2 separate regions of the Homo sapiens genome follow, and region 1 is linked to region 2. The links come from fine-mapping of genetic effects on gene expression. A gene starts in region 2. The other region holds a variant in brackets. All regions are shown on one strand. Distances are from middle to middle. Region 1 overlaps BCL7B (BAF chromatin remodeling complex subunit BCL7B). Region 2 holds the start of BCL7B (BAF chromatin remodeling complex subunit BCL7B).

Region 1 (9,102 bases), 19 kb before region 2:
TCTTTCTGTTGCCCAGGCCGGAGCGCAGTGGTGCAATCATGGCTCACTGCAGCCTTGACCTCCAGGGCTCAGGCAATCCTCCTGCTTCAGCCTCCAGAGTACATGGGTCCAGAGGTGTGCACCACCACACTCAGCTAACTAAAAAAAAAAAAAAATTATTTGTAGAGATGGAGTCTCCCTTTGTTGCTGAGGCTGGTCTTAAACTCCTGGACTCAAGCAGTCCTCCTCCTCAGCCTCCCAAAGTGTTGGGATTACAGGCATGAGCTACTGCACCCAGCCCATTATACTTTCCTTTGTTTAAACACATTAAAACAGTTATGTTGGCCAGGCATGATGGCTCACGGCTGTAATCCCAGCACTTTGGGAAATGGAAACCGAGGTGGGTCCAGCCTGGGCAACATAGTGAGACCTTGTCTTTACAAAAAAAAAAAGGGTCAAGCGCAGTGGCTCACGACTGTAATCCCAGCACTTTGGGAGGCTGAGGTGGGTGGATAACGAGATTGGGAGTTCGAGAACAGCCTGGCTAAGGTGGTGAAACGTCGTCTGTACTAAAAATACAAAAATTAGCCAGGCACAGTGGCAGGCACCTGTTATCCCGGCTACTCAGGAGGCCGAGGCAGGAGAATTGCTTGAACCTGGGAGGCGGAGGTTGCAGTGAGCCAAGATCACGCCACTGCACTCTAGCCTGGGTGACAGAGAACACTCTGTCTCAGAAAAAAAATACGTATTTTGTGTACCACATACAATCACATTATCTGTAAAATTCATTTGACAATTTGATTTTATATGTCTCTTTTTTTGAGACTCCCTCTGTCGCCCAGGCTAGAGTGCAGTGTCATGATCACGGCTCACGACAGCCTTGACCTCCTGGGCTCAAGAGATCCGCCCACCTCAGCCGTCGAGCAGGGGATGCTACAGGCATGCACCAACATGCCCAGCTAATTTTTGTTTTTGTTTTAGAGATGAGGTTTCACCATGTTGCCCAGGCTGGTCTCGAACTTCTGGGCTCAAGCGATCTTCCCAAAGTGCTGGGATTACAGGCATGAGCCACTGTACCTGGCTGTTACATTTTTAAAAGATTATTACTTATTTTTTTAGAGACAGAGTTTCACCCTGTCGCCCGGGCTGGAGTGTAATGGCGCAATCGGGCTCCCTGCAACCTCCGCCTCCCAGGTTCAAGAGATTCTTGTACCTCAGCCTCCCAAGTAGCTGGGATTACAGACATGTGCCAGAACGCCCGGCTAATTTTTTGTATCTTTGGTAGAGATGGGGGTTTCACCACGCTGGTCAGGCTGATCTCGAACTCATGACCTCGTGATCCGCCCGCCTCAGCCTCCCAAAGTGCTGGGATTACAGGTGTGAGCCACCACGCCCGGCCTACATTTTTGTATTTGTTAATGAGACAGGGTCTTGCCATGTTGCCCAGGCTCGTCTTAACTCCCAGGCTCAGGCAATCTTCCTGCCTTAGCCTTCCAAAGTGCTGGGATTACAGGCCACTGTGCCCAGCCCTATATATATAAAAATATTTATATATATATATATATTTTGAGATGGAGTCTTGCTCTGTCGCCCAGGCTGGAGTGCAGTGGCGTGATCTCAGCTCACCGCAAGCTCCGCCTCCTGGGTTCACACCATTCTCTTGCCTCAGCCTCCCGAGTAGCTGGGATTACAGGCGTGAGCCACCGTGCCCAGCCCCAGCCCTATTTATATTTTGTAAGAAAAGATAAAACAGGGGCCGGGTGCGGTGGCTCATGCCTGTAATCACAGCACTTTGGGAGGCCGAGGCGGGCAGATCATGAGGTCAGGAGATCGAGACCATCCTGGCTAACACAGTGAAACCCCGTCTCTACTAAAAATACAAAAAATTAGCTGGGCGTGGTGGCAGGCGCCTGTAGTCCCAGCTACTCGGGAGGCTGAGGCAGGAGAATGGTGTGAACCCGGGTGGCGGAGCTTGCGGTGAGCCGAGATCCCGCCACTGCCAGCCTGGGTGACAGAGCGAGACTCCGTCTCAAAAAAAACAAAAACAAAACATAGAACAGTAGAACTTGTATTATAGTCTCATCCATGACACCTGGAGCCCCTGTGAGAAATGAGGGGAATCACTCCGGGAAATAAACAGATCTGTGGCTGCCAGGGCCCGAGGGGAGGGGAAGAAATGGTGAATGATGCTAACTGGACATGAGGTTTCCATTTGGGATAATAAAAAAGTTCGGAGCTGGACTGTGAGGACTGCCCAGCACTGTGAATGTACTCAGTACTCAGTACCACTGAAATGCACACTTCACAATGGTGACAAAAGTAACTCTTGGCCAGGTGCAGTGGCTCACACATGTAATCCCAGCACTTTGGGAGCCTAAGGGGTTCGAAACCAGCCTGGCCAACATGGTGAAACCCCACCTCTACTAAAATTACAAAAATTAGTCAGACGTGGTGGTGCACGTCTGTAATCCCAGCTACTTGGGAGGCAGAGGTTGCAGTGAGTTGAGAACACACCACTGTACTCCAGCCTGCTGGGTGACAGAGTGAGACTCTGTCTCAAAAAACAAACAAACAAAAACCTTTTATGTTACGTGTATTTTACCACAAGGGGGGAAAAAAAGAACTCATGAATCCCTCCGAACTACATGGACCTGTGGAAAACACATCCATGGGCTGCATTTGGTGTACACAGGGATGGAATTTGGTTTTGTTTTTTGAGATGGAGTCTCGCTCCGTCACCCAGGCTGGAGCGCAGTGGCGCAGTCTTGGCTCACTGCAACCTCCACCTCCCAGGTTCGAGCAATGCTCGTCTCAGCCTCCCAAGTAGCTGGGACTAAAGGCGCCTGCCACCATGCCTGGCTAATTTTTGTATTTTTAGTAGAGATGGGGTCTCATTTTGCTGGTCAGGCTGGTCTTGAACTCCTGAGCTCAGATGATCCACCCACCTCAGCCTCCCAAAGTGCTAAGATTACAGGCGGGAGCCACTGCGCCTGGCCTGGTTTTTATGTTTTAATTTAAAAATATTGTTTAGATAGAGATAGGGTCTTGCTGTGTTGCCCAGGCTGGTCTCAAACTCCTAGCCTCAAGTGATCCTCCTGCCTCGGCCTCCCAAAGTGCTGGGATAAGAAGTATGAGCCACCACGCCCAGCGAGAAGCATAATTTGAACTACGTGACAGCTTCAAAGGGAGGCTAGAAATCACTGTCATGAAGTCCACACTGTGGGAGTGAAAGGATGGGCAGGCCCAGCCCACAGTGACCCCACAAGCACTCAGCCACCACCCCCACCCCGGCCCGCAACCTTCAAGAAGGAAGCACTCAGATACCAACAGGACATATTTCAAATAGTTTAATTTTAAAAATATTCTATTCAGTGCTAAAATATGTCTTCACTCACTGTTGCCCATTTCCATTTTCTTAAACTTTTTTGAAACAAAAAATAAAATCACAAAGTTCAATTCAACATGCAGATTTCAAAGAAAAGGGAGCTTTCTAGAAACTGAGCTGAAGGGGTACTGTGGGGGATGGGTACTGTTGTCAGAACCTCAAATTCTTGCTGGGGCAGTTTGTGACAAGAGGCAGGGATGCTGGAATGACAGGTAGAGGTGAGAACAAAGCTGCGTGTGTGCAGATGTGTGTGCTGAGGGCAGGGGATGGGGACGGCGGCCACAAAGGGCTGTCAGCAGCTAGGGTGCCCGTGAGAGGTAGGACCACCTCAGGCATGGGCAGAGCTGGCAGGACAGCAAGAAATCTAGACGGACTCTCTGCCCTTGTGTGGAGAAAAGCCCTTCCCTTCCCTCCAATGTCTCTACCCAGTCCTCCAACAGCAGCCTACAGGGCCCCCAGTCCTAG[G/A]GGAAAGTCCGGGAGTCTACAGTCTCCGTTCAAGTTCAAGTAACCTGAGGCACGCTCTCTTCTAGAAGGTGCCTTCCACATCTCTCTCTTCTCGCAGAAGCTGCCAGCAGCTCCGTCCAGAGATTCTGGAGCAGAGACTGCTGCCTGGAGGTCACAGATGAATCTTGGGGTGGCCGATGCTCCAGCCAACTTGGGGTGCAAAAAAGACATGAGCGCTCCTCTTCTCGGGAGCAAGTAGACACAGGTGCCAGGGTCAGGAAGATGATGCTACAGCCCCAAGTCCTACGCCAGCCTTCCAGCCCGGAAGGCTCATGTGTGCAGGCTCTTGACCCCAGTGCTTGCCCTTACCCCAGCAACGCGGCGCGGCCAGAACCAGAATGCAATAAATAGAGGCAGGGCCAGGAGGCGGAGGGCCGGGATGGTGCTAGCTTTCTGACGCCGTCTGCGGCACTGTGGGTTGGTCCACACAGAAGCGCTTCAGGGGCGGGGCACCTGAGTCTTCCTCTTCCTCAACGACCTAGGAGCAGGCAGAGCATGGAATGCCAGGGCCACCCCTCCCAACCAGAACCTTCCCACCCACCCGAATTATAATGGGATGTCCACTCTGCTCCTTCCAGCAGATGATCAAACATCCTCCCCTGCCTACAACCCTGGGACTCATTTCCGGCGCTGCAGATCCAACCCCACATCCACAGTCTTTCCTGGTTTTTTGACTTAGAAACTGGGAAGCCTGGCCGGGCACAGTGGCTCACACCTATAATCCCAGCACATTGGGAGGCTGAGATGGGTGGATCACTTGGGCTCAGGAGTTCGAGACTAGCCTGGCCAACATAGTGAAACCCCATCTCTACTAAAAATACAAAAATTAGCCAGGTGTGGTAGTGGGCGCCTGTAATCCCAGCTACTCAGGAGGCTGAAACAGGAGAATTGCTTGAACCCAGGAGGCAGTGGAGGTTGTAGTGAGCCAGGATCGCACCACTGCACTCTAGTCTGGGCAACAGCGAGACCCTGCCTTAAACCAAAAAAACAAAAAACTGGAAAACTCAAAGTGATTGCTTACCTGTGTCTCTAGTGGAACTGGTTCTTCCTTGGTGAGGGTAGGAGGTTCATCAGCAACTTCCGAGGAGGGCAGGGAGGGCTCTGAAAAGGCAGTAGGGTCGGCCTGAGGGCAGGGCTCCCCTGAGGCCTGGACCTGGGGGAGCTTCCTTAGAGCTGTGTGGAGGTGGCTTGGTGAGGAGGGGAGAATACTGGCCTGAGAAGCAAACATTCATTCAGGGCCCAGCTGGACCAGGTCACAGCCAAGAATGGTGGAAGGGCAAAATACGGCTAGACTGCAGAGGGCCATCTCTGCTGGGCTGGAGATATCTGGAACCGACAAAGCAGCTCATCTTGTCATCCTCTAGCCCAAACATCACAACTCTAACTCAATCTCCCAGTTTTCTGAGAGTTGCTATGAGGACGAGATGAAGTAATAAAACACAGGAGCTAAGAACAGCACATGCCAAATAGTAAGAACACAATAAATATTAACTACAATTGGCATTTCCCATGGAGAAACAAGTTCCATTTTGTAGTTGGCTGTTAACAGGTCACAGCACAGGAGAAGGTAACAAGGGCCTAAGACACATCTATATATCCATATTATAACAAGAAACCTGGGTCGGGCATGGTGGCTCACACCTATAATCCCAGCTACTCTGGAGGCTGAGGTGGGAGGATCACTTGAAGCCCAGGAGTTCAAGACCAGCCTGGGCAACATAGTGAGACTCCATTTCTACAGAAAATTAAAAGAAAGCCAGGCATGGTGGCAAAGGCTTACAGTCCTACTACTACGGAGTCTGAGGCAAGAGGATCACTTGACCCCAGGAGTTCAAGACTGCAGTGAGCTAGGATTCAGCCACTGCATTCTAGCCTGGGCAACAGAGCAAGACCCTATCTCTTTAAAAAAAAAAAAAAAAAAAAAAAGAAAAGAAAAAAATTTAGCATGTAATGCAGACAGCATAAATGCTGAAAATAGAAGGACTTAAAGTGACATTCATTCCAACAGTTACTAGACTGGCTATGTGATCTCAGACAAGCGATTTAACCTTTCTCTGTTTTTTTTTGAGATGAAGTCTAGCTCTGTCGCCAGGCTGGAGTGCCCTGGTGCGATCTTGGCTCACTGCAACCTCTGCCTCCTGGGTTTAAGTGATTCTCCTGCCTCAGCCTCCCGAGTAGCTGGGATTACAGGCTTGCGCCACCATGCCTGGCTAATTTTTGTATTTTTAGTAGAGATGGGGTTTCACCATGTTGGTCAGGCTGGTCTCTAACTCTTGACCTCAGGTGATCCACCCACTTCGGCCTCCCAAAGTGCTGGGATTACAGGTGTGAGCCACCGCGCCAGGTCTTTTTTTTTTGAGATGGAGTCTCACTCTGTTGCCCAGGCAAGAATACACTGGTGTGATCTCAGCTCACTGTAACCTCTGCTTCTTGGGTTCAAGTGATTCTTCTGCCTCAGCCTCCGGAGTAGCTGGGATTACAGGCACATGCCACCACGCCCAACTAAATTTTTTATGTTTTTAGTAGAGACGGTTTTGCCATGTTGGTCAGGCTGGTCTTGAACTCCTGGCCTCAAGTGACCCGCTCACCTCGACCTCCCAAAGTGCTGGGATTACAGGTGTGAGCCACCATGCCCAGCCCAATTTAACCTTTCTAAGCTTTGAATGTCCATTTTCCTCATCTGTAAAAGAAGACAATAGCTGCCACCTCACAGGATTTTTGAGAGAATTATAGCAGGCGTCAAATACTCAAGTTCCTTCCACACAGCCTGGCACGCAACTCTAATGCTTGTTTTCTCCCTTCCCTCTGTGAAAGGGGAAACTATAATCATTCCTAAGCTATCGAGAAAGGGCTTGGTGCTGCCTGGCTCTGAGGTGCTCTCTCGAGCCTGTTACTCTAAAGACGAGACACAACAAGAGCAGAAAGCAAGGCCCTTCTAGGAAACTCATCCTCGGCCAACCACGACTCACCCTCCAGGATCTCCTGGCCCAGCGTTGGGGGCTGGGAGTCATCCGTGCGGAAGTCGGAGGTGTGTGCTGGGCTCAGGGACTCACTCTGCTGGGGGCTGGGGCTTGAGTTGGTGCTGCTGTCCACCTTAAGCTGATAGACGTCAGACACGGAACTCTGGTTGCTGTTTTCGTCTGAAAACCAAACAGAACAAAGGCAGCAGCTGAGCGTGGTCATTTTCCTCAAGAGGAACTCTGGACAGAGCCAAGGGCCTGGCATCACTTTAGGCAGCCAAGGATACAACTGAGTATAATAATCATTGTGCCCGGCCTACACGACATAGATTCTAAGCACCAGAGGCAGCCAGAATCTTTATGTTTATGCAACATTACACTTTAGGAAGGTCAGGATATGCTTATTAAACTCTTCTTTATTATCCACTGATTGCAGCTTGTGGAAGGGAGGGATGTAGCTGTGTCTCTGGTCAGTACTTCTCAATCCTTCTCACATCATAAGATGTGTAGAAAATGACATTTGTCAGGCATCCTTGGGCATCTGAAGGAGGCTGGTGGTGTCTGAAGGTGGTGAGCTCAGGCTTCGGCTGCCGGACTGACGGATTAGCACCTGGGAGTTCTGCCTGAAGGCTTAAAGTCACCATCAAGGTGCAAAACTTAAGAGTTACCAGGCCGAGGCCAGGCACGGTGGCTCACGCCTGTAATCCCAGCACTTTGGGAGGCCGAGGTGGGCAGATCACAAGGTCAGGACATCGAGACCATCCTGGCTAACACGGTGAAACCCCGTCTCTACTAAAATTACAAAAAATTAGCCGGCTGTGGTGGTGGGCACCTGTAGTTCCAGCTACTCAGGAGGCTGAGGCAGAAGAATGGCATGAACCTAGAAGGCAGAGCTTGCAGTGAGCCGAGATCGCGCCATTGCACTCCAGCCTGAGCAACAGAGCGAGACTCTGTCTCAAAAAAAAAAAAAAAAAAAAAAAAAAGAGTTACCAGGCCGAGTGCAGTGGCTCACGCCTGTAATCCCAGCACTTTGGGAGGCCAAGGTGGGCGGATCACTTGAGGTCAGAAGTTTGAGACCAGCCTGGCCAACATGGTGAAACCCCGTCTCTACTGAAAATACAAAAATTAGCCGGGCATGATAGCACGCGCCTGTAATCCCAGTTACTTGGGAGGCTGAGGCAGGAAAATCGCTTGAACCCGGGAGGTGGAGGTTGCAGTGAGCTGAGATCGTGCCATTGCACTGTAGCCTGGGTGACATGGCGAGACTCCGTCTCAAAAAATAAAAATTAAAATTAAAAAAAAAGAAAAAAAGTAAGAGTCACCAATGCATTCCTCCGCTGCACCTACAGTAGCCAGTCACCAAAGTGTTTCCCCCTCCTGCTCTGGTATCATTTGTGCTCATTCCTTCCTCTCCTACTGCTTCAGTTCAAGCCTCATCATCTCCAGCCTGGCCTCCTGCAACAGCCACATACCTCACTGCCCTGCCTCCAGTCTCACGTACCTTAAACTGAACTGCAAACCACTGCCAGAGAGACCTTTCTAAACCCTTCGACGCTCCACTGCTGCCTAAGGGAGAAATGTCATACCCAGTACTTTTTTTTTTTTTTTTTTTGAGACCGAGTTTCGCTCTTGTTGCCCAGGCTGGAGTGCAATGGTGCTATCTCAGCTCACCACAACCTCTGCCTCCTGGGTTCAACTGATTCTCCTGCCTCAGCCTCTTGAGTAGCTGGGATTACAGGCTTGCGCCACCACGCCTGGGTAATTTTGTATTTTTATTAGAGACGGGGTTTCACCATGTTGGTCAGGCTGGTCTCGAACTCCTGACCTCAGGTAATCCACCTGCCTCAGCCTCCCAAAGTGCTGGGATTACAGGCATGAGCCACCACGCCCAGCCATACCCAGTACTTCTTAGGAGAGGCAGGAGCTGGCCTTATCGCAACATAGGAAGTCCTTTCTGATCTCTGGCCTCAGTGCCTACTGTTCTCCTACAAGCATCCTCAGCTCCAGGCAGACTGGACCCTAACCCAAGAGCTTCGTCATGCATGGGTGCTTCTGCCCAGCTGTTCCTTGGCTAGGCTGCCTTCTCTTGTCCTGGAAAGCCTCAGACCTCCCAACACAGCCCCGACATCACTTCTTCCGCGGAGCCCTACCTCCCTGGCTCGCATAGGTGGAAATGCCCACCCTCTCTTACTCTCCTGTGATAGCCTGTGCACGCCTGCATTTATCATTTCGCACACGTGCTTCCTCCCATGAGCCTCTGTGGACAGGCTCTGT
Region 2 (9,102 bases):
GAGGATCACTCAAGCCTAGGAGGTTGAGAACAGCCTGGGCAATTTAGCGAGACCTCATCTCTAAAAAAAAAATACAGGCCAGGCGCAGCGGCTCACGCCTGTAAACCCAACACTTTGGGAGACTGAGGTGGGCAGATCGCTTGAGGTCAGGAGTTCGAGACCATCCCGGCCAACATGGTGAAACTCTGTCGCTACAAAAAAAAAACAAAAAGTAGCTGGGCGTGGTGGCGTGTGCCTGTAATCCCAGCTACTCCGGAGGCTAAGGTGGGAGGATCCCTTGAGCCCAGGTGGCAGAGGTTGCAGTAAACTGAGATCACGCCACCACACTCCAGCCTGGGCAACAGAGACCCTGTCTCAAAAGAAAGAAAGAAAAAAAAAAGGATGTGGGACATAAGGCTGGAAGGTAGCACACACAGCACCATATTCTTTTTTACTTGCATGCGAGTTACTTTGAGTGCTTTTCTCTTTACCAAATATATGAGTTCTATTACTACATTCCTTTTCTTTGTTTGTTTTAGTGAGACAGGGTCTCGTTCTGCCTCCCAGGCTGGAGTGAAGTGGCACAATCATAACTCACTGCAGCCTTGACCTCCTGGGCTCAAGCAATCCTTCCACCTCAGCCTCCTGAGTAGCTGGGACTAGAGGCGCACACCACCACGCCCAGCCAAATTTTTATTTTTTGTAGAGATGGTTGGGGTGGTGGGGTGGGGGTGGGGGGTCTCTCTTTGTTGCCCGCGCTGGTCTTGAACTCTTGGTCTCAAGCAGTCTGCCCACCTTGGCCTCCCAAAATGCTGGGATTACAGGCATGAGCCACCACACCTGGCCTCCTGTGTCCATTTAAAGACCCTTCCAAGGGGCAAACAATCTCAGGAGAGACACCTGCTGCTGGGGGGTATGGCCTGGTGGGTGTGAAATGTTAGGAACCTTTCCCTTTCTGGGTTACTAAGACTGCATAAAGAAAAAGAAAACTAGGCCAGGCGCGCTGGCTCACACCTGTAATCCCAGCACTTTGGGAGGCCAAAGTGGGCGGATCACGAGGTCAAGAGATCGAGACCATCCTAGCTAATACGGTGAAACCCTGTCTCTACTAAAAATACAAAAAATTAGCTGGGTGTGGTGGCACGCACCTGTAGTCCCAGCTACTCAGGAGGCTGAGGCAGGAGAATTGCTTGAACCTGAGAGGCAGAGGTTGCAGTGAGCCGAGATTGCGCCAATGCACTCCAGCCTGGGTGACAGAGCGAGATTCCGTCTCAAAAAAAAAAAGAAAGAAAACTAGTCTAAAGAAATTTTTAAATTTCAACTTTGAAGTTCAAAGCTTTGTAGAAATCCTGTCTCTTGCTGTGTTCCAAAGGGGTAAAAATGGCAGAGTTTATCAGTCCACTACGCTCACGAAATAAGCAAAGGGATAAGCCTTGCACAAGGTCACTCTCTAAATGACTAAGGACCCCCAACTATCTACACCAGATTAGAATGCCACTGTTCTGAGCTTACCCACAGAGTGCCTTCGAGGTCTGCAAACAAATGTGTGGAGGAGATAGAACAAAGGAGACTTTTTTTTTTTTTTTTTTTGAGATAGGGTCTCCGTCACCCAGGCTGGAGTGCAGTGGCGTGATCACCACTCCTTGCGGCCTCAAAATCCCAGGCTCAGGTGAATCTCCCATCTCAGCCTCCCAAGTAGCTGGGACTACAGGCCACCACGCCCAGTTAATTTTTTGTATTTTTAGTAAGGATAGGGTTTCACCATGTTGCCCAGGTTGATCTTGAACTCCTGGGCTCAAGCGATCCTCTTGCCTCAGCCTCTCGAAGTGCTGGGATTACAGGTGTGAGCCACCGTGCCCAGCCTCTCCTTCATTCCAAGAAGGTTATTCCCTAAGCGTGCAGGCAGAGAACAAATTTGCTTATTTTAAGGTCCACCAATACCTTAAGAGGTACTTGCTGTCAGTAGGAACAAGGGTCAAATGCAGGGAACTGCTTTGTCACAGATCTGAGCCAACTTCTCAAAGAGTCAAGTCCAAATATGAAGTCACGAAAAAGCAAAAAAAAAGCAACTGCTGTTGTAGTTGTTGATGCTGTTCAGCAAATGATGACATAATAGGGCCGGGCACGGTGGCTCACACCTGCAACCCCAGCACTTTAGAAGGCTGAGGTGGGTGGATCACTTGAGCCCAGGAGTTCGAGACCAGCCTGGGCAATATGGTGAAATCCTGTCCTCACTAAAAATACAAAAATTAGCCGGGCATGGTGGCGCACACCTGTAGTCCCGACTACTCAGGAGGCTGAGGCGGAAGAACTGCTTGAACCCCAGAGGCGGACACTGCAGTGAGCCAAGACCACGCCACTGCACTCCAGCCTGGGTGACAGGCAAGACTGGGTCTCAAAAAAAAAAAAAAAAAACAGATGACATACTGGGAGTGTAAAGAGACTGTGATGTAACAGAAGGAGCGAATTAAAGTCTTAGAAAATAACTAAAATTAATTCCTGAACAGACCACTCCATTTTCTCATTTATTCAACCAATTAGTATACAACAGGCTGTGCTAGGCCCTGGTGATGCAGGGAACAAGATCCACAGTCCCTGCCCTCACAGACCCTGTCTTATATCTGGAAACAGACATGAATAGCTCAATTCAAGATTAGTCACTTAATCATCAGGTTCAACCATATCAAATTGCCATTTTTGTAGGTTAATTAGTCAAATACAGGAGGCCAGGCACAGTGGCTCACATCTGTAATTCCAGCACTTTGGGAGGTCATGGTGGGAGGACCACTTGGAATTCAGGAGTTCAAGACCAGCTTGGCCAACATGGTGAAACCCGGTCTCCACAAAAATACAAAAAATTAGCTGGGTGTGGTGGTGTACACTTATAATCAGCTACTCGGGAGGCTGAGGCAGAATTGCTTGAACCCGGGAAGCAGAGGTTGCCGTGAGCCAAGATCGCACCATTGCACTCCAACGTGGGTGACAGAGCAAGACTCTGTCTCAAAAAAAAAGAAATCAAATATAGGAAATGTCTTATGAGTCCATCTAATACAACTGTGGAAAGGTCTATGAAGGAGACTTGATCTAGATTGGGAATCTCAAGTGGTAAACCTAAGGAAGCAACTTTTGAGCTGAGCTAGGAGTTAACTCGGCAAGAGGGAGGAGAGGAGAGAGGAAGAAGAATGCCAGGCGGCAGGAAGAGCAGAGTGACTTCATTGGTAAGACAGCGGGCATCCTGGGAAAGAGCCAGCCAAGTGAGGCAGGAAGGAGGGCCTTCTTCAGTATTTATCCTAAAAGCAAGAAGGGAACCACTGAAGCATTACTAGGGGTGCTAGGATAAGATGCACATTTTATATATTTTTTTACAGATGGGGTCTCACTGTGTTGCCCAGGCTGGAGTGCCATGGCATGATCATAGTTCACTGCAGCCTCAACTCCTGGGCTCCAGCGATCCTCCCACCACAGCCTTCCAAATAAGGCTGTGCACTTTAAAAAGGTCACTCCGCTACTCGGAAGAGAGAAAAATAAAATCACTCAGTGCAAATGAACAGACTGGGGAATGAGCAAGAGCAGAAGCAGAGAGTTTACAGGGAGGCTGGTACAGAGTTCCAGGTGACAGGGGATGGCCCTTCAGCCTAGCCTGCTAGGGGCGGGGGGGTCAAAAATGGGGAGAAGAGAAAGGTGTACCTGTTCTTAGGTTTCACCAAAACCTCGGAGGATTAAAGGTGGACGAGGAAAACCATGAGTATGTTAAACTAATATTTATACTGAAACCCAACTATATATGAAGCCCTCAGACATAAAAAAGAGAAGGAACTTCCCTCTTGTGGGGAAATGGACAGATAAACACACAAATAAAGTCCAACGTACCAACGACCTTAAAGGAGGTAAAGGGATGGGAGGAGTTAAGGAAAGCTTCCTGGCGGGAGGTAACATCTACTTGAACTTTTATTTTCTGTAGAGACGGGGTCTCACTATGTTGCCCAGGCTGGTCTCAAACTCCTGGCCTCAAGCGATCCGCCCACCTCAGCCTCCCAAAGTGCTGGGATTACATGCCTGAGCCACCTCACCTAGCCAGACCTGGGTTTTTAAATTATTAGTAGTAATTGGCTATACAAAAGAGCTGACGAAGTTGGCTGTGAAAGTTTAATGTGATGACTCCGATACACACCGATATAGTATGTATCGGAGTTCCGGATACTAAACAGGGGCTCAATCGGCATCTTCCATGAACATTTTAGACACGGGGTCTCTCTCCGTAGCCCAGGCTGGAGTGCCGTGGCACGATCATAGCTCACTGCAGCCTCCAACTCCTGGGTCCCAGCAATCCTCCCACCACAGCCTCCCAAGTAAGGATGTGCACTTTAAAAAGACCACTCTGCTACTTGGAAGTGAGAAAAATAAAATCACACAGTGCAAATGATGAACGGACTGGGGAATGAACAAGAGCAGAAGCAGGGAAATTAGAGGGAGGCTGGTACATAGTTTGCAAAGGACTCTCCTGACAGCCGCCGGGGCAGCAAGAGAAAATGCCTACCAAGCTCGCGGCGCAGGGGCCGGTTACTGGGGGAAAGGGAGGGGTATCCCTCTGGATGACACCAGGCTTGCTCCCTTGACAGATGGACTAACCCAGAAACTCACCCAACTTCAACGCCTGAATACGCAGAGCGCTCAGCCTGGCGGGCTGACACCACTCCAGGGCTACTCGCTATTATCAAGAGGAAGCCTGGAAACGCAGGCGGGGCCACTGCCCAGGAAGAGGGGAGGGCGGGCCCCGGGCTGGGCCGGGCGCGGGCACCGACGCCAGGCAGCTCCAGTCCGGGCCGGAAGCCGGAATCCCCTCCCAGGCGGCGCGCGGCAGCAGCCGCAGCAGGTGGGCGGGCCCGCGAGCCGGGAGGACCGCTGATTGGCCGCGGCCGGCGCGCCCTCTGACCTCACGCCGACGCCAGCGGCGCCCTCCTCCCGCCTTCTCCCGCACCCCCCTCCCCCAGCGCCGGCCGGTCGGCTCCCACCTGACCCGCCAGTCCCACGCTCCTCAGGGCCTGGATCCGCGACCCCCGCCAGCCCCCTAAGCTCCGGCCCCTCACCATTTCCGCACTTTCTCGATGGCCGCCATCACCTTCTTGATGTCGTCCTTGGCCCGGCTGCGGGTCTCCGCCCGGACCGACCGGCCCGACATGGCGGCGGCGGGAGCGGCGGGGGCCGGGGCACTGCTCCCAAGACACCGGGGATCGCGCGCCTCACGCGCCGCCGCCCGCCCGCCGCCGCCGCAGCGTCACAGCGGCCGTCGCCCCCTCCGTGCGCGCGTGCGCGAGAAAGCGCGCGCACCCGCCCGCCCCTTGGGGCTCACGGCCTCAGCGCGCCTGCGCGCCCCGCCCGGGGCGTCCCTCCTGAGTGCCCCGGGAGTCCCCTGAGCCCCCTACCCGGGCCGGGGTGCGAGGCGGGTTGGGCGCACGTGCTTGTGGTCAGGGCGAGGTGCGAGGTGCCGCCGGTGGGCAACCTGGTTCTCTTCCCTGAGAGTTTGGAGGTCGGCTCCCTGCTCTGGCCAGCGTGTTAGGAACCTGACCCTGTGGAACCGCACTCCTGCGCCATCTCTGTCCTCCCGCCTCTCCTGCCCAGCACCTTTGCCCTCTGGCTCCTACGCTGTGCTCCAACCACGCCTTTCTTAAGGATGGCTTCCGGTCTTTGCACACACCTGTTCCTCACCTGGAATCCCCTCCTCTCTTTACCAGATGAACTGCTTTCCCAGCATTCAGACCACATTCTTGCCTTTTCTCGAGTATCTAGTAGTCCCAAGTATTTGGGAGGCTGAAGCGGGAGGATCACTTGACCCCAGGAATTTGAGGCTGCCGTCAGCTATGATATGATCGCACCTGTGAATAGCCACTGCACTCCAGCCTGGGCAACATATGGAGACCCCATGTCTAAACGAGACCCCGTCTCTAAAGTAAATAAATAAAAAGATGTCTATTTTGTGCAAGACTCTGTACCTAAAGCTGAAGACATACGTGGTTTTGGTTTCAAAGAGCTTCCAGTTTGTTTATTTATTGAGACGGAGTCTCGCTCTGTGACTCAGGCTGGAGTGCAGTGGTGTGATCTCCGCTCACTGCAACCTCCGCCTCCCGGGTTCAAGCGGTTCTTCTGCCTCAGCCTCCTGAGTAGCTGGGATTACAGGCGGGTGCCACCACGCCCAGCTAATTTTTGTAATTTTAGTAGAGACGGGGTTTTATCATGTTGGTCAGGCTGGTCTGGAACTCCTGACCTCGTGATCTGCCCGCCTTGGCCTCTCAAAGTGCTGGGATTACAGGCGTGAGCCACCACGCCTGGCCTTTTTTTTTTTGAGACGGAGTCTCGCTCTTTTGCCCAGGCTGGAGTACAGTGGTGTGATCTCGGCTCACTACAATCTCCGCCTCCCGGGTTCAAGCAATTTTCTGTCTCAGCCTTCCGAGTAGCTGGGATTATAGTCGTCCGCCATCACACCCAGCTAATTTTTTTATTTTTAGTGGAGATGGGGTTTCACCATGTTGGTCAGGCTGGTCTTGAACTCCTGACCTCGTGATCCACCTGCCTCGGCCTCCCAAAGTACTGGGATTACAGGCGTGAGCCACCGCACCCGGCCCAGTTTATTTATTCATGTGGAGAGGGGATCTCACTATGTTGTCCAGGCTGGTCTTGAACTCCTGGTCTCAAGGGATCCTCACAAAGTGCTGGGATTACAGGCATGAGCCACTGTGACTGGCTGAGCTTCCAGTTTAGTAGAACATTCAGACGAAAAAAAAATATTTATTTTTTACTTTTACTTATTTTTTGGTACAGGGCCTTGCTCAAGTGATCCTTCTGCCTCAGCCTCCTGTGTAGCTGAGACCACAGGCGAGGGCCACCATGCCTCGCTGACATTTTTTTTTTTTTTTTTTTGGTAGAGACAGGGTCTTCCTATGTTGCCCAGGTTGGTCTTGAACACCTGGACTCAATTGATCCTCCTTCCTCGGCCTCCCACAGTGCTGGGATTGCAGACGTGAGTCACTGGGTCCAGCTTCCCAAAGCATATTTAAAATGCTATTTGATAAATGCTAGCCTAGGCGGAGCATGGTGGCTCACGCCTGTAATCCCAGCACTTTGGGAGGCCAAGGTGGGTGGATCATTTGAGGTCAGGAGTTTGAGATCAGCCTGTCCAACGTGGCAAAACCCCATCTCTACTAAACATACAGAATTAGCTGCTTGGAAAGCTGAGGCAGGAGAATCGCTTGAACCCAGGAGGTGGAGGTTGCAGTGAGCCAAGATCGCACCATTGCACTCCAGCCCGGGCAACAAGAACAAAACTCCATCTTGGAAAAAATAAATTAATTAAACAAATAAGTAAAATGCTATTTGATAAATGCCAGCTTAAGTAGGGGAGGGGAGGTGTAAGATGCTATGGCTTTTATTCCTAGTCTGCAGCAAAGAAAAAAGAGGTGTTATGACAACCTTAATCTTGAAGCTGACCTCTAAAAATAGGGTAGGTGCTGTTACTCCCAGGGCAGTGTTCACAGATGCTACAGATGCTCAATAAATGTTTGCATGAATGTTGAATCCAGTGCAAGCTCTTGTCCTCTTTGCCCCCACCCAATTGCAGGCAGGTGTCACCCACGCTTGCAGTATGCGGAGAGGGTCCTGTAGCAGCTGTTTCAGGACACAGCTTGGGACAGAAAGCAGATTGGTAGTGGCTGTTCTCACCTATAAAGAAACTAATTTCCATGTGCTCCAGAGAAATGCCTAGCTAGCCCTGAACTTGAGACAGCCTCTGATTATGAGTCAGCCTTTCATGATCAAGCAACATAGGGCAAGCATATGTCATCTTACTGGCGAGGGGGCCAGAAATAGCTTCTGCCTGACTGAGGAGTGCAAAAGCTGAACCAGCATGTGGAGTGAAAAGATGATTCTAGAAATAACGGGATCAAAGGTGGCACATTTGTTGTTCAGACCCAGCCGATCCAAAATAACCGCAGATTGCCTAAGCACCTGCTGTACGCCCTAGCACAGTGGACACTGCAGGTGATGTGAAGTTGAGTAAGACACACTCCTTGTCCTTGGGGTGAAGGTGAGGAAAGCAGTAGAAAGGCAGAACATACGTGCCAAGAGAGAGGCCAGCCCTTGAGACTTCTCCAGTTCTGCCCATAGATCCCCCTGGTTGAGGCACACAGCCCCTGTGTCTGTCTCACCCTTGTCCAAATCCTCCCACGTGAGGTTTCTTGTCTGTAGCTTCCTTCTCGTCCACAGCCCAGCGCTCCTCCCAGCTGCACAGGTTCCCTGCACACATGTCTCCCCCAGCTCACCCAGCCAGTCGTCTTCCTGGGGCAAAGTCCCAGAGACCCCCCCAACCTTGTTTTCTCCCTACATTTGTCCACCTAGTCCTACATTCCCCACCTCATCTTCCACTGGGGCTCGGTCTGTGTAAGAGAGTGATCAAAGTGGGCACCTACCACCTATTCCTCATAGCCTACCCAAATGCTCTGTGTTGATACCCTTTTTTTTTCTTTTTCTTTCTTTTTTAGACAGAGTTTCGCTCTTGTCACCCAGGCTGGAGTGCAGTGGCGCAGTCTCGGCTCACCGCAACCTCCGCCTCCCTGGTTCAAGCCATTCTCCTGCCTCAGCCACCTGAGTAGCCGGGATTACAGGCATGCGCCACCACGCCTGGCTAATTTTGTATTTTTAGTAGAGACGGGGTTTCTCCATGTTGGTCAGGCTGGTCTCGAACTCCCGACCTCAGGTGATCCGCCTGCCTCGACTTCCCAAAATGCTGGGATTATAAGCATGAGCCACTGCGCCCAGCCTCTTTTCTTTTTTTCCCTTAAGACGGAGTTTTGCTTTTGTTTCCCAGGCTGGAGTGCAGTAGTGCGATCTTGGCTCACTGCAACCTCCGCCTCCTGGGTTCCAGTGATTCTCCTGCTTCAGCCTCCTGAGTAGCTGGGACTAGAGGTGCCCACCACCACACTCGGCTAATTTTTTGTGTTTTTAGTAGAAACGGAGTTTCACCATGTTGGCCAGGCTTGCCTCGAGCTCCTGACCTCAGGTGATATACCCACCTCGGCCTCCCAAAGTGCTGGGATTACAGGCGTGAGCCACCACACCCAGCCTGACACCATT

What was found. PIP is the estimated chance that this variant, and not a neighbour inherited with it, causes the effect.
Region 1: its variant is fine-mapped to the expression of BCL7B in whole blood (TOPMed, PIP above 0.99).

What each region holds. Positions count from the first base shown.
Region 1 is chr7:73,533,045-73,542,146 of GRCh38, forward strand. BCL7B (BAF chromatin remodeling complex subunit BCL7B) reads right to left here. Exons shown (of 6, transcript NM_001707.4): 4 at 6,838-7,008; 5 at 4,890-4,969; 6 at 3,312-4,346. The coding sequence ends at 4,254. Among named protein-coding and RNA genes, the nearest start is that of BAZ1B, 15 kb to the left of the region's middle. The variant G/A (reference allele first, on the strand shown) is at 3,830.
Region 2 is chr7:73,552,421-73,561,522 of GRCh38, forward strand. It overlaps BCL7B (BAF chromatin remodeling complex subunit BCL7B), which reads right to left and starts at 5,270. Exons shown (of 6, transcript NM_001707.4): 1 at 5,067-5,270. The coding sequence starts at 5,158. RefSeq lists silencers at 4,606-5,055, 5,076-5,125, 5,146-5,255, 5,306-5,545.